Regions from separate parts of the Homo sapiens genome. Here all the other regions are linked to region 1. Evidence: fine-mapped expression QTL. A gene starts in region 1. Each other region holds a variant in brackets. All regions are shown on one strand. Distances are from middle to middle. Region 1 holds the start of CD101 (CD101 molecule). Region 2 holds the start of LOC124904386 (a long non-coding RNA gene). Region 3 overlaps CD101-AS1 (CD101 antisense RNA 1). Region 4 overlaps PTGFRN (prostaglandin F2 receptor inhibitor).

The links. PIP is the estimated chance that this variant, and not a neighbour inherited with it, causes the effect. A credible set is the group of variants that fine-mapping cannot tell apart.
Region 2: its variant is the best candidate, but not a certain one, in a credible set for the expression of CD101 in thyroid (GTEx, PIP 0.90).
Region 3: its variant is the best candidate, but not a certain one, in a credible set for the expression of CD101 in whole blood (INTERVAL, PIP 0.73).
Region 4: its variant is the best candidate, but not a certain one, in a credible set for the expression of CD101 in whole blood (TOPMed, PIP 0.59).

The regions. Positions count from the first base shown.
Region 1 is chr1:116,999,724-117,004,873 of GRCh38, reverse strand. It overlaps CD101 (CD101 molecule), which reads right to left and starts at 3,114. Exons shown (of 10, transcript NM_001256106.3): 1 at 3,014-3,114. The coding sequence starts at 3,056.
Region 2 is chr1:117,021,530-117,026,679 of GRCh38, reverse strand. It overlaps CD101 (CD101 molecule), which reads right to left. Exons shown (of 10, transcript NM_001256106.3): 7 at 4,697-5,107; 8 at 776-1,171. CD101-AS1 (CD101 antisense RNA 1) reads left to right here. Exons shown (of 4, transcript NR_110786.1): 4 at 1-1,198. LOC124904386 (a long non-coding RNA gene) reads left to right here and starts at 4,679. Exons shown (of 2, transcript XR_007066499.1): 1 at 4,679-5,150. The variant T/C (reference allele first, on the strand shown) is at 2,254.
Region 3 is chr1:117,047,936-117,053,085 of GRCh38, reverse strand. CD101-AS1 (CD101 antisense RNA 1) reads left to right here. Exons shown (of 4, transcript NR_110786.1): 2 at 2,752-2,919. Among named protein-coding and RNA genes, the nearest start is that of CD101-AS1, 9.0 kb to the left of the region's middle. RefSeq lists an enhancer at 1,012-1,101. The variant T/G (reference allele first, on the strand shown) is at 3,116.
Region 4 is chr1:116,974,956-116,980,105 of GRCh38, reverse strand. The region is part of intron 7 of PTGFRN (prostaglandin F2 receptor inhibitor); the gene reads right to left. Among named protein-coding and RNA genes, the nearest start is that of CD101, 24 kb to the left of the region's middle. The variant T/G (reference allele first, on the strand shown) is at 2,674.

The DNA.
Region 1 (5,150 bases):
ACCCGCCCCAGTTTATGGTACTTTTGCTACAACACGCCAAACAGTCTAAGACATACTACTTTCTGAGAAAAGTGAAAGAAATAGTGTGGAGATTTCAAAGGTATTTTTCAGGTAGAAGGCATGACTGGCAGAGATCAACTCAAATGGCTATGCACTGGGGCCATAAGCTTAAGCATCTTACTATAAATATATTCTCTCTGGGTTTTTTCAAGTACATATCATCCACCCTCCGAAAAACACCTGTGAGGACTGCCCTCTTGCTCTCTCTTTTAATGGGTAGAGGGTTAGCTACTTTTGAATAGTAGCTCATATTCTTGTTGGCTGATGAGTACAAAGCTTGGCACTGACATACTAACATTAGAATCATGCTTTCAAAACACCAAAAATTCCTCGATGGTATTGACTTTCTTTAAAAATATCACTGGAATTGTCAAATTTACCACTGCAGTATTATTTGAATGAAAACGATTAGGTTGAACTGTATAAAATGGTCCATACTTGAGCACTTTTTATACCAAAAAAACAGCAGTTTCAAATAATGCTACCTTATACAAAACCTACCTCAGGAATAGCCAACATAACAAGCAGCTTCTTTCTCTTTTCACATTCAAAAACCCTATATGCTTGGAGGCTGAGATAGCTTCCATCCATACTAAGTGGAATCTTTTTTATTTTTCATGAATGCAAACTCAGTAAGACAGACAATAGCCCTTCCCCCAAACCCTGCCATATTAATGGCCATTATTTGTAGGGCAGCTAGTTTGGGTGGGGGAAATAGATCAAGCAGACAAAGCTAACTGCTAAATCCGAGAACTCATTTACCCATGACATTAATCTCATATGGCACCATTTTCTATCAGGATTGTTCAGTCCTTATATTTACTAAAAAAAAATTGGGACAAAGTGTAAATTTGCTAACCAATGTAATTGATCAATAGATCGTTATTTAAATAATTTATTTCAATTCCCCTCTATATTTGTAAGGACAAACAGCAGACTTCTAAAGCTTTTTCCAGTAACTTCCTGATTTATGTATTCTTCACATAAAAACTGTGCTTCTACACAAAATTAGTGCTTCAGATGAGTCAGAATTTAGAAGAAGTAAATGTATAACCCAGTTTAGGTAATTGTTTAAATGGGTTAAGGAAAAGCTTCCAGCTTCCCCTTTTTGAGCCTTGATTACTACTTTCCTTCCCCCAGGGCTTCTAGCCTGCTTACCAAAAAAAGAGACAGAATTTGCAATTCTATGAATTATTGCACAATGTAAACCCAGTTTCCTCCTATATACATAGCAAACATAGAATTCAAATACACAAAGCACATACACTTGAGAATCACACTCAGACAACTTAACCAAACAACAAAAACACACCAGCCCCCAAAGGATCCCACCAGTGCACCTATCCATCAACACCCGCCAAGCCAGTCTGGCAGGCATCCGTCACCCAGCAAGTGGTCCCAGTAACTTCCCCTGCAGGCCCTAGGTCTGACTCTTAACCTCACACTATCATATGTACCTAGAGACATGAGCACAATTCAACTCAATCAATGTTTATTAAGCAACCTCTTTGTGCTGAATGCTGTATTCTTTTCTTTTAATTCTTCAGCCATAGTCCTGGTCACACCAAATGCAGCTTGGTTTAGTTCCCCAATCATCCCAGCCATTCGGGTCCCTGCACTGGCTCCATCCAGTCTCTCTAAAGCAAGAGTTTTGTTTGTTTGTTTGTTTTTTTAGATGGAATCTCACTCTGTCACCCAGGCTGGAGTGCAGTGGCTCAATCTTGGCTCACTGCAACCTCCACCTCCCAGGTTCAAGCGATTCTCCCACCTCAGCCTCCCAAGTAGCTAGGGCCACAGGTATGTGCCACCATGCCCAGCTATAAAGCAAGAGTTCTTAACTGGGTCCACATGTAGGATTAAAGGGTCCATAAACTAGGGTGAAAAATAATCTTACATCTTTATTTTCATTTTTGCCTCTAATGGAAATTTAGTATTTTCTTCAGTTATGTATGTAGACAACCACAGATATCTTCATATCACATTACAACTACTTAAGATATATTGAAATGTTATTTATACTCATCATTACTTTGAAGTTTGGTGGTTAAAAGACCTACCTGTAGATTTTGTTATGTAATGCATAAATAAGAAGCAAATAAATTACTGCATTATAATTTATTTAAAATATTTTGATACCTGTATTTCAATGTGACTGATTTCCTCTGTAATTCTATGCATTTTATTTTATGCATTTTAAACATTATTCTGAGATGGAGTCTATTCTCTTTACCAGATGTTAATGAAAACTGTAGCATAAAAAGTACCTGCTATCTGGTTTGAAACTATTCCATTACCTGCTCAACTCATCTGACTCTCCCTTCTACCTCCAAATTTTCTCTTCTTCCATCCTATTCAAACATAGATAAATGCCCCTAGATCAGGCAAGCCCCTCTGCATGGCCCTCAGTAGAGCCAAGTGAATCTTCCTGTTCATTTCTCAGTCTCTCAGTAGTCAATTTCCACTTCCACTCGCAGGTGAAATCTAGAACCTTCTTTTAGCATAGTCTAAAACTACTAAGTACTTTCATAACCTTTCTTTCCATCCAGTCATATCTGCAAGGCATAGTTATCCCATCAAGCCTTAATATCAGGCAAACCTTAAGGTCTCCTCTCAGTTTGGGACACAAAGCTTTTTTACTGTCTCTTGGGATGATCGGCCCAGGAAGATGAGTAAAGCCAGGGCCAAGCAAAACTGACAGATCTGGCAACACACACAAATGTTAAAACCAATGGAATCTTGTGCATGGGACTCAACCAAGCATTGTGACTCCCTGGAACTCAAGGATGTCTAGGTAAGCCAAGAACTGTCATTAGTAAGTCAAAAATTATTGCTAACATCAGAAATATATGGCATAGTTGTTCCTGTAGAGACCAAATTGTCCTGTTCCATCACTCAGCACCCTGAGTTGATGAACTCCTGTGACAAGAGAAACATAAAGGATTATGAAACTTACTCAGAAGGAGAAAGAAAGATGCCACATATGAGATGCCTGCCATTTGGGCCAGCACAGTCCTTTTTCGTCCCAATAGTGTCACTAACATTCAGAGGTTGAGTGACAAATGCTGTGCTCTCACTGCAAAGTAAAGAGGAAGCAAAAGTGTGGTTTTCAGCCCACTGAGAAATAGAGATGTCTTGTGAAAAGCAAAACTGGTTACATTATGTAGCTCTTTACTAATCACTCAAATTTGGGAGTAAAAAAGTTATCTTTGTGGTTAAGTAAACAGATATCGATAAAACTAAGAAAAGATGGGTCTCAACCTGGCTCACAGTATGTGTCATTTGGTAATGATGAGAGAATTTAGGTAAACTGAATAAATAAAAAAGGCACCAGCAATGTTGTCTTCTTGGCCCTTCCTTCTCCTCCTCTCTTGAGAGAGGAAATGACTGAGAAATGGGAGAAGGCCCCTGAAAAACATGAACTTGGGGCGACATGAGGTGGTGCTGAAGGTTACAGGCTCTAGAGTCAGGCTGCCTGGGTTTGCATGCAGATTCTAGTTTTAGTAACTGTGCAATCTTAGAAAACTTAATTAACTTTTCCTAACCCTCATTGCTAAAATGAGGATACTAATAGTAGGTACCCTGTAAGATTACTGTGAATGCCAAATGAGCTAATTTTTTAATTATTTTTTTATTTCTTTTTTTTTGTATTTTACTTTTTTTTATTATTATTATACTTTAAGTTCTAGGGTACATGTGCACAACGTGCAAATTTGTTACATATGTATACATGTGCCATGTTGGTGTGCTGCACCCATTAACTCGTCATTTACATTAGGTATATCTCCTAATGCTTTCCCTCCCCCTTCCCCCGACCCTATGACAGGCCCCGGTGTGTGATGTTCCCCTTCCTGTGTCCAAGTGTTCTCACTGTTCAATTCCCACCTATGAGTGAGAACATGCAGTGTTTGGTTTTTTGTTCTTGAGATAGTTTGCTGAGAATGATAGTTTCAAGCTAATTTATTTAAAGCACTTAGAACAATATCTGGTACATAGTAACTGCTCAATGAATATTAGCTACCATCATCACCATCATGAGACATTTAAGTAAATCTTCATCTGCCCTGTGAAACTGCCTTTGCAAAAATTGTAACAGTGAGAAAGTTATGACAGTGAAAGGGATCTGACCTCACCATCTCCATCTTGCTTCTAACTTCCAAGCTGCCCTTGTTAATTCCTGGTTGTAGGCCAAACTAACTTTGGGAGGAATTTAGCTTAGTTTAATTTTGAAACAAAGAGGATAACAGCCCTTTCTGGAAACAAACCCCCTTCTTGCCTGGGGAGCAGACTTCCCTAGTAAGACTAACAAATTAGCCACAACATTAGAAATTATGGTTTAGGAGTCATGCAGCCAGAGGCCACACAATTCCAACCTCCCCAACTGTTCCTAGGGATAACATCACTATTGTAAAACCTAAATTGGTGCTCAAGGTATTTTTCAGACCCTGCATCCTGATGCACCAGCTGACACCATCCAGGCTGGTGATCTGGTTCCACCAGTTCTTTGATCCCACTTAGGAACGGAAGACTGCAAGAACCCCCTTTGATCCCCTGTGATTTCATCTCCTACCTGACCAATCAGCACTCCCCACTCCCTGGCCTGCCAAATTATCCTTACTAACTCCAGTCTCTGAATTTCCGGGGAGACTGATTTGAGTAATAAAACTCTGGTTTCCCATTTAGCTGGTTCTGTGTGAATTAAACTCTTTCTCTATTGCAATTCTCCTGTCTTGATAAGTCTGTTCTATCTGGGCAGCAGGCAAGGAGAAACCTGTTGGGCAGTTACGCTAATGGGCAGTTACACCGATGTGAACCCAGGTATCAAGGATGGCAGAGGAGTATCTAAATGCAACAGTTGGCCCTGAACCTAGACTAATACTACGCTAGTGCTAGAGTTCTCAGGAAGCTTCCACTTAAATCAGATAATCACAATGCAATGTGTCAACAATCAGTGGGGCACCTATAGGGGGTGGGGAAAATTGGTAGGCAGGAGGGAAGGTCAAGATGGATTGGGCTGGGCCAGGTGAGTCAATGAGTCATCTAGAGAGGCAGGGGGCCAAGGTACAGTTGGGGAAAAACCGTGTGGCATGAAT
Region 2 (5,150 bases), 22 kb before region 1:
CACAGACTGTATACTTTTTACAGTTCTTATCTATTTATTCTACTGCAAAAACTGCCGATTCTACAGAGCCTATTAATTCCACTGGGAAAACATGTACGGAATGTGCTCATGAGTATGGGACTTCCTGTAATTGTTGGAAAGAAGAAAAAGGCTGATAGAAAAAACATTTTGGCCTGGCACTCAGGAGAAAACTTCTGCTGAGGAATGAACAGGGAAAAACAATGATGGACCACCTCAAGGAACAAATCGGATAGCTTCGACTTCCCCTCTGGAAGCCCTGCTGCGCTGGGATGCACCTATCCCTACTTCTTAGATGTTCCCATATGTTCTCAACAGCATTCTGTCCCTCCTAAGCAGTGTCACTAAAGCTAGCTGGTCTCTTAGGATTGTTACCTTTATTGATGATTTTCCCTTTGTGCTTCCTGGTGTCTGGCACCAAGACCACACCCCTACTTCTCCAATGGCCCTTTCCCTCAGTAAGCTTAGCTTATTGCTCACCTCCCACCTTCTCCCTGAACCCCAGCAGAAAGACATGGACCTGTCAGATGCTCCCGATATTTAAGTGTCTATGCCAAAATCTCATGTGGACCTTGTTTGTTCAAATGAGTTACTATTGAGAGAGACAGCAAAGTCATCTTCTTTAGGGAACCTGAAAATTGTCTTCAGTCTGAAAATTGTCTTCAGAAGGAGCAAAAGATAGGTGAGAGGGAGAGGATAAGAGGAGAGCCATGTATTCTCCTGACCATGAGCTCGCGGTAGATAAACCCCTGGTTACCTGAAGGCAGCACCGTGAGCACCATCCGCTGTGACTCATCGGATGCTTGATTAATCCACTTGCTTGGGTGTCCATGGAGCTGCCACTCTGCCACCCTACACCAGTACATTCCTGCATCCTCCATCTCCACCTGATGAAGCTTCAGGACAAAGTCTGTAGAGGATGAACGGTAACAGTGCAGGTGCCTCCTGAGCCCCTCTTCCCCATACTCCAGCAAGCCATCATGTTGCAAGTGCACCAGCAATTTACTTCCAGAGTTTTCTCTGTTCCAGTACCACATCACAGAGTACAGAGTGGCTGAGCTGCCTACACTCTCCAGGCTGCAGCGGATGGCCACTTCTCTGTGCTCAGTCACATTTTCGGTCCAGTACACTTTGGAGACACGTACCTTACTTCCTAGAAAATAAAATGGCAGTAAATTAGAGAATGCAGACTTTCAGATTTGGATACCACCTCTGAAAAATCTAGTTCTCACTGGGAAGATCTTATATTCTTTAGACATCAGTGCATTCATTTTATTTTTTTTATTATTTTTATTTTTTGAGACAGAGTCTTGCTCTGTCACCCAGGCCAGAGTGCAGTGGCATGATCTCAGCTCACTGCAACCACTGCCTCCTGGGTTCAAGCAATTCTCCTGCCTCAGCCTCCCAAGTGGCTGGGATTACAGGCGTGTGCCACCATGCCCAGCTGATTTTTGTATTTTTAGTAGAGACGGGGTTTCACCATGTTGGCCAGATTGCTCTTGAGCTCCTGGCTTCAAGTGATCTGCCCACCTCAGCCTCCCAAAGTGTTGGGATTACAGGCATGAGCCACCACGTCCAGCCACATTCATTTTAATTCTTGTCCTTGGTCCCTGTTTTTCTCTCACATTTGCCAGGACATTCTCTGCTAGGAATCAAACCAGCCTCTTTCCTTCTTTAGCCCAACTGCTTGCCTGCTGGACCCTGCCATTGAAAACTACACAGCTTCTGCAGGGCCCTCTGCCTGCTGCTTTTACTTACCCTTGATTCACTCCTCCTCTACTTCCCAAAGTGGTCATTCACAACTTTTAGCAGCTCCCTCAAGCCATGTATTCCACCAGTACCCCTCATTCTTAGCAAATTACTCTCCTCCCATACACCCAGATATTATCTTGGGTGTAAACGCAGAGAGAGAGGACGCCATCCAAGAGACTGAACATTTTGATGCAAGTGTTAGAAGGCCATCCATGGGAGCTATTTAGATGATTGGATTAGACTGAGTTTTAAAGAGATTTTGACATTTACTTTTTTTCCCCTTGCTAACCAGCAGGTGAGGATTTAGAATAACAGCCAAAGTAGTTACAAACAAAATAAAGAAATTATAGTGTGCATTACATTTTCAATTCCACTACAAACACATTTATTTATTTATTTATTTATTTATTTATTTTTATTTTATTTATTTTTTGAGACGGAGTCTCGCTCTGTCGCCCAGGCTAGAGTGCAGTGGCACAATCT[T/C]GGCTCACCGCAACCTCTGCCTCCCGGGTTCAAGCGATTATCCTGCCTCAGCCTCCCGAGCAGTTGGGATTACAGGCATGGGCCACCATGCCTGGCTAACTTTTTTATTTTTAGTAGAGACAGGGTTTCACCATGTTGGCCAGGCTGGTCTCGAACTCCTGACCTCAGGTGATCCGCCCACCTTGGCCTCCCAAAGTGCTGGGATTATAGGCATGAGCCACTGTGCCTGACTCAAACACATTTATTAATCTGTCTTTAAGAGAATAATTCTGTCTGATCTTGGACTCTTTCTTAGTTACCATTTTTACTCTCCCCTTTCCTTCATGGAGTAGCACGTGGAATATTAGCACATGGAATACTGTTGCTGTTTCCTTGTCTCAAATTACTTCCTACTTTATTGTGATCTGGCTTCCAATCCCATCACTTTACTTGGCCAGGGCCCAATTTCCCAGTTCAAGGGACCCTCTAGTCCTTTTCTGTCCTCTATGTGGTTTTTGTTACTGGAGTCCAATTTCTCCTTGAAATTGACTTCTTTTCTTCCAACCTCAGAGAAAATATCCCCCTTACAACTCTGACCAGTCATTCTCAGCATCTTTCTGGGGCCTCTTGGTTAACTTGTTCCCTAAATGACGTGCACAACCGGAAGTCCACAGCCACACCAAGCCCACAGGTATGTTCTGCTTGACACTTGCAGTATTTTAAGAGAACTGGGCTGGGCGCAGTGGCTCACGCCTGTAATCCCAGCACTTTGGGAGGCCAAGGCAGGTGGATCACCTGAGGTCAGGAGTTCAAGACCAGCCTGAGCAACATGGTAAAACCCTGTCTCTACTAAAATTACAAAAATTAGCCAGGCATGGTGGCACACACCTGTAGTCCCAGCTACTCTGGAGGCTGAGGCAGGAGAATTGCTTGAACCCAGGAGGAGGAGGTTGCAGTGAGCTAAGATCATACCACTGACTCCAGCCTGAGCAACAGAGCAAGACTCCGTCTAAAAAAAAAGAAAAAGAAGAAGTGAATTAGTTGTGGACATTCTCAAACTGGGAGATGTCACCAAAAAAGATTTTAGGCATCTCTAGATATGCAAAAAGATCTGACAACACGGAGCCCACATTTCTACATGGGAAGCACTTGAGCTAAGCAGTGGCTGCCTCCTGAAGACGGCCATGCACATGTGGTCAAGAGTTTGGTGTGGATGACTGGGAGACAGAATGCCAATCACACAGATGGGAAATGCAGAAGTGCAAATGAGCATGGTGAGATGGCAGAGATGCTAAGTGCAATTTAGGGCATGCTGAGTATGGGGGCATCCAAGTAGAAATGTACAGCAGGCAGTTGGGTATGAAGGCTTGGAGCTCAGGAGATCAGGGCTAAGCACAAAATCTCAGAGTTATCATCTAGAAGGTGGTAGTTGAAACCAGGGCAGTGTTTAAGAAATTCTGAGGAAAGCAGAGAATAAGAAGCAAAACAGGCCCAGGATCTATCCCTGAGGAACACACACATTTAGCAGGGAGAAGAAGGGGCTTGAAGAACATACAGAAGGGAAGCCAGAGGGCAGGAAGAGACCCCAAACCAAGCTGCTGTTCTGCCCTTGTTGTCCCACCAGACTGGGAGCTCCTTAAGGGCCAGGGCTGTGCCTTCTTTATCTTTGTATTCCACTGCCTAACACATAGTAATGCTCAATTATCATCTAATTTTTTTTTAGCGTTACCTTGAAAATAGTATTTCAAGCACCAAATTAGATCAACTTCTCTGCATTGTGCTGTAGGATCTTGGCCAGTTCCTGAACCTTGGCTGTGACATTCATTTAATTTTAATCAACACTGGAAGTGACCTAACCTATGCTGAGAGACCTAATCAACCCTGCCCACATTTAGACAGTGGCACTCTTAGACCAGTGCGGAACTTCCATTACATTTTTAAAGATCTCCTGAGGAAGAGGAGACTCCCTCAGTAAGCCATTCCAACAGTTAACTACTCTTATTTGCCTTATGTTTAGGCAGCTAAATGTTGAGAAGCAATTTCTCCACACATCCCCATAGAGTTGTACAGTTTCTGTTCACAGTGGGAGAAATATGCTTCGTATTACTCTTTCTCTGCCAAATTACAGTAGAGCCCCACTGGAATGACACAGCTTGTTATGATAGAGATCTGGAGATACGATACCCTGGGTAGCTGCACAGACCAGGCTGCCAGGTTGAGAAGCAAACCAATCAAAGGGATATTGCTCCTACCTCAGCTCCCCAAAACCTCAGATTGGATTGCCTTAAGTGACCTCCCCTCCTTTGGTGGACTACTCGGTCTTGCAGTCATGTGTAGGTAGATACTGTTCCTATGACTTTAGGTCATATTTTTACTTCCACATAATCACTCCATAGAACAGCTGCCCAAGAGAAAACAGCCGTCAGACAGACAGACATTGTGAGGATACACTCGCAAGGTTTACCTGTGGGCTTGAGTTTCAATTCTGTTAGTCCTGACTTCTTTTCTCCAAGCTTGTGCCAAGTGCCATTTGTAGACAGGAGCCATTCCTCCACAGCACAGTGATATTTGCCCCGATCGCTGTCTTCCACATTCAGAATGTGCAGCTGAAATAAGTCTTGGGAAACCTTCTCAGTATGAAATTTTTGTTTTCTCTGTGGGGTGTGAAACTCATCCCCAGTTTTTATAACATTGGTTTGGTCCATCTCCAGGATCTTTAGCCAAGAGGCATTAGTGGAAACAGGAGAAAAATACCAAATAATGGCTAACTGAAGGTTTCCATTGGACCGGGACAAGATGCTACATTCTATATCAGTGTTGGAGTTGATGGAGAGCTCTTGGACTTGACTCCTTGAATTCACTTTTAGCTTGCTCTCTAAATTTAAAAAAATGAAACAGTTACTTTGCTATGAAATAGA
Region 3 (5,150 bases), 48 kb before region 1:
CGTTGGCCTCCCAAAGGGCTGGGATCATGTGTACACCATCACACCTGGCATCAAAACTATTAACTTTCAAGACTATATGCTGTATGATTCCATTTATATACCTCTGGGAGGTTGGGTTGGGAGATTGGTGCAGTTTTTATTTTCTACAACTAGCATGTATTGCTCTGTTACGATTTTTAAAATCCAATAAAGATATTGAAAGCAGTCACATAGAAAACAATAACAAAGAGGATGTACCAAAATAATAATAACAATGCTTATTTAAGATGGTAGGATTATTGGTGTTTTTTTCTTTTTTTCTCCCATTGTTTTATATGGCATATAATGTTATTATACTGTCAGCAGTAGAGCAGTCATAGGCCCCACGTCTCTGTACCTTCATCAGAACACCTCTTAAACTTGCCTAGTTCTCATCTTAGCTATTCAATCCTAACTTTCCTCTAATTAATCCTTTCTTTCTTATTCATGTCCTCCTACCCATTTTTTTGGTATCTAATTCAAGTTTTATACCAAGCTGTTTTTTCCCTCTTCCCCCTAACCCTATACCAGTTATTCTGCTTAATTCTAACCTTCTCCTCAACCCTCACTGCTCATTTGTTCCCTAAAACCTTCGCTGCTTTACACATTCAAGATAACCTAGAACCTGAAGACCTCCAGTGGCTATGTACTTGTTTTCTGGTGGCCATCCTGAGTTGTATTTCTTTTTTTTTTCCTTGTTTTTTGAGACAGAGTCTCACTCTGTCGCCCAGGCTGGAGTGCAGTGACATGATCTCGGTTCACTACAATCTTCGCCTCCCGGGCTCAAGCAGTTCTCCTGCCTCAGCCTCCCGAGTAGCTGAGATTACAGGCGCATGCCACTATGCCCAGCTAATTTTTGTATTTTTAGTAGAGACGGGGCTTCAACATGTTAGCTAGGTTGGTCTCGAACTCCTGGCCTCAAGTGATTGCCCACCTTGGCCTCCCAGCGTGTTGGGACTACAGGCGTGAGCCACTGCACCCGGCCTCTTGTTTGTTTTGTTTTCTGTTTTCTTTTTGTTTCTGAGTTGCATTTTTTCTGGAAAGCAACAAATGGCACTAAGGTGGATTCCAGGTTCTCAAGCTGAGCGTAAACAATACTACCCAATGCTCTGAAGACTTTTGCCATGAAGTTTTTAAGCCTCCTTGGATGCTGGGATCTTAGTAGCTGAGAAAACTCTGGCAGAGTTCTTCCTGGTTCTCCCTCCTTTTCCTTTCTGAGTTAACCTGGGAGCCAGAGCAGAGCAGCCTCTGGTTTTTGCTGCTATTTTTTAGTACTAAAATGGCCTTAAAGAACTCATCAACCTTTTAAAACATGAGTCAGGTTCTGTTACTTTGCCTATAACTCTTCAGTGACTTTCTGTTAAACTTAGAGAAAAAGGTTAAGTCATCCTTTTGGTTCCTACGGGCGCTGCACGGTTTGGCCCTTCCTGCTTTCACTCTCACAGACAGCCACGCCACTCCTCACCCATTATATTGCAGCCGCCCTAACCTGTTTTCTGTTCCTCAGTGTGCCAAGCTTTGTATTACCCTAAGGCCTGCATTCATATTGTGCTTTCTGCCTGGAATGCTTTCCTCAGTTCTTTAAAAACTTAGCCCTTCATCCTGTAGGTCTCAGCAAGCACCATCTCAGTGAGACTTGCCCTGACTACTTTATCTACAAAGGTTCTTCCTTGTTCTCTCTCAGTATCCGGTTTGCTTTCCACATAACATTTATTTCAGAGTTGTCTGTTGACTTGTTTATCGTCTGTCTTCTCCATGGACTATATGTGTAATTGCCAAGAAAGCAGGGACTTATTTCTGTTTGGCTCACTAATCACTGTATACACAGCATGTAAACATTCCATAAGTATCTGTTAAATGGAATGGATGAAATCATAGGGTAGAAGGAACCCTAAAGCCACCTAATGCATCCTCCCAAATCCCTTCCACAGCATCCCTAATGGATTCAGCATAGAAACTTCTGGTTATAGCAAGTTCTGTTTGGGTGTGTCGAAATGTTAGTTAATTCTAATGCATATTGAGCAGAAATCTTTCTGTCTGAAACTTCCACTTTCTTGTCATGTGGAATTAAACAAAATACACCTGATCCATTTTTACATCACTTTAAAATATATGAATATGACTATTTCATCCTCTCTGCACTTCACATGCATTCTCTTTGCCCAGAGAAACTTGTCCAACTGCATCAATTACTTTTCTCCCTCCGACACCCCCTCACCAGTATTTTGCTTTTTCTTTTTTGAGACAGAGTCTCACTCTTTTGCCCAGGCTGGAGTGCAGTGGCACGATCTCAGCTCACTGCAACCTCTGCCTCCTGGGTTCAAGCGATTCTCCTGCCTCAGCCTCCCGAGTAGCTGGAATTACAGGCACATGCCACCACACCTGGCTAATTTTTGTATTTTTAGTAGAGATGGGGTTTCGCCAGTATTTTTTGATGAATGTATGCTTAATTTGAGGCATCCCAAAGAAAATTCAATATGAAAAATGCCGTGGGATAATTATCTCCTTTATTTTGGATATGACCATTTTATATATGAAATGGAAAACTCTAAATCTTTTTCTCTGTTTTTTCAATAAGTATGTTATGCTAATAATATATATCAAGTGTGCAATCAACCAAAACACTGTTTTCATTTTTCATGCGTGAGCTCATCTCCCCTATCTGGTGCATCTAATTGCCTAAACTTAACTATGGATTCTATATTTCATGTTAATTTTGATTCATTATTCTAGGTTATCCAGATCTCTTTGAATCTTGTTCCTGTCAACTGACTTATTAGTGCCATCTCCTAATTCTGTGTCAACTTGACAAGCCTGCTGTCTTTCCCTTCATCCAAGTTGCCAATAAAAATGCTCAACAAGGCAGAGTGCTTTAGCAAGACCTGGAGAGATCTCCTACAGGTAAACACGTTGCCATGGTCTTTACACCTTGGGTATGATCATTCACCCAAGCATGGAGTCACATAGTGTCCACGTTGTTCCTCTTGTTCAAAGGCCTTGCTGCAGTTCATGCATGCGGAATCTATAGCTGTCCCATGACTTACCAGCCTAGCAGAAAGCAGCACATCAGAAAAGGAAGTGAGTTTAACTTGGCATG[T/G]CATTTTCTTTCTTTCTTTTCTTTTTTTTTTTTGAGACAGAATCTCGCTCTGTCACCCAGGCTGGAGTGCAATGGCACCATCTCGGCTCACTGCAACCTCTGCCTCCTGGGTTCAAGCGATTCTCCCGCCTCAGCCTCCTGAGTAGCTGGGATTACAAGCGTGCGTCACCACTCCCGGTCAATTTTTGTATTTTTAGTAGAGATGGGGTTTCACTGTGTTGGCCAGGCTGGTCTCGAACTCCTGACCTCAGGTGATTCGCCCGCCTCGGCCTCCCAAAGTGCTGGGATTACAGGCGTGAGCCACCGCGCCTAGCATGGCATGGCATTTTCTTGGTGAGCAGCACAGGAAGCAGCCCAGAGGCCTCAGTGGGGTGGCTCTTCAGAACAGAGGCCCTCGCCTCACACTAGGCTAGTGATTCAGTCACACCACCATCTCCTACGTCAATTTGTCTCACAACACTGTCATGTCTCACTTCTTATAGAATCTGTCGCCTCCTTTCTCTCCCTCTTGGTGCTCTCTCAAGGTTTACATGCATTTGGATGAAAGCTAGGAAGGTTCTAAGTTGTAAGTGAGGGATTTGCTGCGTCTCTCAAGGAGAAGAGGAAGTTACCTCTTTTGATGAAGATCCAAGGCATCCTCCACTGTCACGTGGTGCAGAAGCAGACATCCCCTTCAAAAGATCTAGCTCTTCCCAGCTCTTCTGTTCCTCTTTAGTACTTTCTCACCCTCCCTTGCAGACTGAACTTCCACCTAACTCTAAGCGGAAGCCCACACACCTGTTTCCACACACAGTAAGACAGGACTTCTCCTGTCTGCTGTACCACAGAGACAGGCCTTGCCTCAGTGTGGTGGGGCTTGCTGCCTCCCCTGGTGTCTGAAGGGTTTCTTCCTGCAAGCACTCAGCCTTCTTCCTTCTCTGGGTCAGCAGTTTCTTCGGGAGCTGCAAGCACTGCTGGCACGGTGGATCCGAGAGACCCACTTGAGCCTCAGAGCAGAGCTGGATGGGGCAGAAGCTGGTCAATTCTTTTTTCTCTGTAGTTTGTTGGCTTTTATTTCTGCCTTCTCACTCTTATGTGCTAATTGTCACTGTTTCTTCTCTCTGTTTCTCTTCTTCTCCTGCTTTCCCCACTATCCTCCCTGCTCGACCCTCCACATTTCTCCTTGAGTTCAGGGCAGACAGAAACAGCATTAATGATCAGCTGCAGAGGAGGAGGTGTCAAGGGTTTCTGTATTCCCACCCAGAGCTCTGCATGCATGTTTAAGCAATCCCTTTCCATCTTTACACTCTTTCATGATGACACTGTTTCTGACACTTCAGTGATCACCTATTTCTGATGGAAGAGCTGGAGCATTGCTAAGTGGCAGGTGGGGAAATTCTACTCAGTTCACTTGACTGGTTTTGCTCTTAAGTTGTAATCCTACCCAAGTGTACACATGCACAGTAAAAAATACCAAACCTGTAGCACTCAGATAACTTACTCCATCTGAACTATGTTAACAGACATGAAGAGTGCACACCTTGGATAGGTACAGGACAAGCCACAGTCCAGTTCATTAATTATGCTGTCAATTTGGCTATAGTCTGAATGATGTTTCCCATAATTCACATATTGAAGTCCCAGCCCCCAGTGTGTTGGTATTTGAAGATGGGGCCTTTGGGAGATAATTAGGTTTAGATGAGGTCATGAGGATGGGTCATGATGGTATTAGTGCCCTTCTAAGAAGAGACCAGAGAGTTTGCCTTCTTTGTCATGCCATGTGACTACACAGTGAGAAGGTGGCTTGTCTACAAGCCAGAAAGAGAGTCCTCACCAAAATCCACATCATCTGGCACTTTGACTGGGACTTCCAGCCTACAGAACTGTGAGAAAATGAGTATCTGTTATTTCAGCCACCCCATCGGTGGTATTTTGTTATGGCAGCCCAAGCAGACTAATACAGATTCCAAACTAATTATTTGCTATCTGCCATAATAGTTGTTTTCCAAATGTGCCATTTGCACTCAAATCTACATGTAAATTGAAACAGGTAATT
Region 4 (5,150 bases), 25 kb after region 1:
TGTGTCTGTTGGCTGCATAAATGTCTTCTTTTGAGAAGTGTCTGCTCATATCCTTTGCCCACTTTTTGATGGGGTTGTTTTTTTCTTGTAAATTTGAGTTCTTCGTAGAGTCTGGATATTAGCCCTTTGTCAGATGAGTAGACTGCAAAAATTTTCTCCCATTCTGTAGGTTGCCTGTTCACTCTGATGGTAGTTTCTTTTGCTGTGCAGAAGCTCTTTAGTTTAATTAGATCCCATTTGTCTATTTTGGCTTTTGTTGCCATTGCTTTTGGTGTTTTAAACATGAAGTCCTAGCCCATGCCTATGTCCTGAATGGTACTGCCTAGGTTTTCTTCTAGGGTTTTTATGGTTTTAGGTCTAACATTTAAGTCTTTAATCCATCTTGAATTAATTTTTGTATAAGGTGTAAGGAAGGGATCCAGTTTCAGCTTTCTACATATGGCTAGCCAGTTTTCCCAGCACCATTTATTAAATAGGGAATCCTTTCCCCATGTCTTGTTTTTCTCAGGTTTGTCAAAGATCAGATAGTTGTAGATGTGTGGTATTATTTTTGAGGGCTCTGTTCTTTTCCATTGGTCTATATCTCTGTTTTGGTACCAGCACCATGCTGTTTTGGTTACTGCAGCCTTGTAGTATAGTTTGAAGTCAGGCAGCGTGATACCTCCAGCTTTGTTCTTTTGGCTTAGGATTGACTTGGCAATGCGGGCTCTTTTTTGGTGCCATATGAACTTTAAAGTAGTTTTTTCCAATTCTGTGAAGAAAGCCATTGGTAGCTTGATGGGGATGGCATTGAATCTATAAATTACCTTGGGCAGTATGGCCATTTTCATGATATTGATTCTTCCTATCCATGAGGATGGAATGTTCTTCCATTTGTTTCTGTCCTGTTTTATTTTGTTGAGCAGTGGTTTGCAGTTCTCCTTGAAGAGGTCCTTCACATCCCTTGTAAGTTGGATTCCTAGGTATTTTATTCTCTTTGAAGCAACTGTGAATGGGAGTTCACTCATGATTTGGCTCTCTGTTTGTCTGTTATTGGTGTGTAAGAATGCTTGTGATTTTTGCACATTGATTTTGTATCCTGAGACTTTGCTGAAGTTGCTTATCAGCTTAAGATTTTGGGCTGAGACGATGGGGTTTTCTAAATATACAATCATGTCATCTGCAAACAGGGACAATTTGACTTCCTCTTTTCCTAATTGAATACCCTTTATTTCTTTCTCCTGCCTGATTGCCCTGGCCAGAACTTCCAACAATATGTTGAATAGGAGTGGTGAGAGAGGGTATCCCTGTCTTGTGCCAGTTTTCAAAGGGAATGCTTCCAGTTTTTGCCCATTCAGTATGATATTAGCTGTGGGTTTGTCATAAATAGTTCTTATTATTTTGAGATACGTCCCATCAATACCTAATTTATTGAGAGTTTTTAGCATGAAGGACTGTTGAATTTTGTCAAAGGCCTTTTCTGCATCTATTGAGATAATCATGTGGTTTTTGTCTTTGGTTCTGTTTATATGCTGGATTACATTTATTGATTTGCATATGTTGAACCAGCCTTGCATCCCAGGGATGAAGCCCATTTGATCATGGTGTATAAGCCTTTTGATGTGCTGCTGGATTCGGTTTGCCAGTATTTTATTGAGGATTTTTGCATCGATGTTCATCAGGGATATTGGTCTAAAATTCTCTTTTTTTGTTGTGTCTCTGCCAGGCTTTGGTATCAGGATGATGCTGGCCTCATAAAATGAGTTAGGGAGGATTCCCTCTTTTTCTATTGATTGGAATACTTTCAGAAGGAATGGTACCAGCTCCTCCTTGTACCTTGGTAGAATTCGGCTGTGAATCCGTCTGCTCCTGGACTTTTTTTGGTTGGTAGGCTATTAATTATTGCCTCAACTTCAGAGCCTGTTATTGGTCTATTCAGGGATTCCGCTTCTTCCTGGTTTAGTCTTGGGAGGGTGTATGTGTCCAGGAATTCATCCATTTCTTCTAGATTTTCTAGTTTATTTGCGTAGAGGTATTTATAGTATTCTCTGATGGTAGTTTGTATTTCTGTGGGATCAGTGGTGATATCCCCTTTATCATTTTTTATTGCATCTATTTGATTCTTCTCTCTTTTCTTCTTTATTAGTCTTGCTAGTGGTCTATCTATTTTGTTGATCTTTTCAAAAAACCAGCTCCTGGATTCATTGATTTTTTTGAAGGGTTTTTTGTGTCTCTATCTCCTTCAGCTCCGCTCTGATCTTAGTTATTTCTTGCCTTCTGCTAGCTTTTGAATTTATTTGCTCTTGCTTCCCTAGTTCTTTTAATTGTGATGTTAGGGTGTCAATTTTAGATCTTTCCTGCTTTCTCTTGTGGGCATTTAGTGCTATAAATTTCCCTCTACACACTGCTTTGAATGTGTCCCAGAGATTCTGGTATGTTGTGTCTTTGTTCTCATTGGTTTCAAAGAACATCTTTATTTCTGTCTTCATTTCATTATGTACCCAGTAGTCATTCAGGAGCAGGTTGTTCAGTTTCCATGTAGTTGAGCGATTTTGAGTGAGTTTCTTAACCTGAGTTCTAGTCTGATTGCAGTGTGGTCTGAGAGATTGTTATAATTTCTGTTCTTTTACATTTGCTGAGGAGTGCTTTACTTCCAACTATTTTGGAAGTAAATTTTGGAATAAGTGCGATGTG[T/G]TGCTGAGAAGAATGTATATTCTGTTGATTTGGGGTGGAGAGTTCTGTAGATGTCTATTAGGTCCACTTGGTGCAGAGCTGAGTTCAATTCCTGGACATCCTTGTTAACTTTCTGTCTCATGGATTTGTCTAATGCTGACAGTGGGGTGTTAAAGTCTCCCATTATTATTGTGTGGAGTCTTAGTCTGTTTGTAGGTCTCTAAGGACTTGTTTTATGAATCTAGGTGCTCCTGTATTGGGTGCATATATATTTAGGATAGTTAGTTCTTCTTGTTGAATTGATCCCTTTACCATTATGTAATGGCCTTCTTTGTCTCTTTTGATCTTTGTTGGTTTAAAGTCTGTTTTATCAGAGACTAGGATTGCAACCCCTGCCTTTTTTTGTTTCCATTTGCTTGGTAGAATTTCCTCCATCCCTTTATTTTGAGCCTATGTGTGTCTCTGCACGCGAGATGGGTCTCCTGAATATAGCACACTGATGGGTCTTGAGTCTTTATCCAATTTGCCAGTCTGTGTCTTTTAATTGGAGCATTTAGCCCATTTACATTTAAGGTTAATATTGTTATGTGTGAATTTGATCCTGTCATTATGATGTTAGCTAGTTATTTTGCTCGTTACTTGATATAGTTTCTTCCTAGCATCAATGGTCTTTACAATTTGGCATGTTTTTGCAGTGGCTGGTACCGGCTGATCCTTTCCATGTTTAGTGCTTCCTTCAGGAGCTCTTGTAGGGCAGGCCTGGTGGTGACAAAATCTCTCAGCATTTGCTTGTCTGTAAAGGATTTTATTTCTTCTTCACTTCTGAAGCTTAGTTTGGCTGGATATGAAATTCTGGGTTGAAAATGCTTTTCTTTAAGAATGTTAAATATTGGCCCCGACTCTCTTCTGGCTTGTAGAGTTTCTGCCAAGAGATCCGCTGTTAATCTGATGGGCTTCCCTTTGTGGGTAACCCAACCTTTCTCTCTGGCAGCCCTTAACATTTTTTCCTTCATTTCAACTTTGGTGAATCTGACAGTTTTGTGTCTTGGAGTTCCTCTTCTCGAGGAGTATCTTTGTGGCGTTCTCTGTATTTCCTGAAGTTGAATGTTGGCCTGCCTTGCTAGGTTGGGGAAGTTCTACTGGACAATATCCTGCAGAGTGTTTTCCAACTTGGTTCCATTCTCCCCATCACTTTCAGGTACACCAATCAGACACAGATTTGGTCTTTTCACATAGTCCCATATTTCTTGGAGGCTTTGTTCATTTCTTTTTACTCTTTTTTCTCTAAACTTCTCTTCTCGCTTCATTTCATTCGTTTGATCTTCAATCACTGATACCCTTTCTTCCAGTTGACCGAATCAGCTACTAAAGCTTATGCATTTGTCACGTAGTTCTCATGCCATGGTTTTCAGCTCCATAAGGTCATTTAAGGACTTCTCTACACTGGTTATTCTATTTAGCCATTCGTCTAATCTTTTTTCAACGTTTTTAGCTTCTTTGCGATGGATTCGAACTTCCTCCTTTAGCTCAGAGAAGTTTGATCATCTGAAGCCTTCTTCTCTCAACTTGTCAAAATCATTCTCGGTCCAGCTTTGTTCCGTTGCTGGAGAAGAGCTGCGTTCCTTTGGAGGGGGAGAGGTGCTCTGATTTTTAGAATTTTCAGCTTTTCTGCTCTGTTTTTTCCCCATCTTTGTGGTTGTATCTACCTTTGGTCTTTGATGGTGGTGACGTAGAGATGGGGTTTTGGTGTGGATGTCCTTTCTGTTTGTTAGTTTTCCTTCTAACAGTCAGGACCCTCAGCTGCAGGTCTGTTGGAGTTTGCTGGAGGTCCACTCCAGACCCTGTTTGCCTGGGTATCAGCAGTGGAGGTTGTAGAACAGCGAATATTGCTGAACAGCAAATGTTTCTGCTGATCGTTCCTCTGGAAGCTTCGTCTCAGAGGGGTACCCGGCCATGTGAGGTGTCAGTCTGCCCCTACTGGGGGGTTCCTCCCAGTTAGGCTACTCGGGGGTCAGGGACCCACTTGGGGAGGCAGTCTGTCCGTTCTCAGATCTCAAGCTGCATGCTGGGAGAAGCACTACTCTCTTCAAAGCTGTCAGACAGGGACATTTAAGTCTGCAGAGGTTTCTGCTGCCTTTTGTTTGGCTATGCCCTGCCCCCAGAGTTGGAGTCTACAGAGGCAGGCAGGCCTCCTTGAGCTGCAGTGGGCTCCACCCAGTTCGAGCTTCCCTGCAGCTCTGTTTACCTACTTAAGCCTCAGCAATGGCGGGTGCCCCTCCCCCAGCCTCGCTGCCACCTTGCAGTTCGATCTCAGACTGCCGTGCTAGCAATGAGCGAGGCTCTGTGGGCATGGGACCCTCCGAGCCAGGTGCAGGATATAATCTCCTGGTGTGCCGTTTGCTAAGACCATAGGAAAAGCGCAGTATTAGGGTGGGAGTGACCCAATTTTCCAGGTGCTGTCTGTCACAGCTTCCCTTGGCTAGGAAAGGGAATTCCCT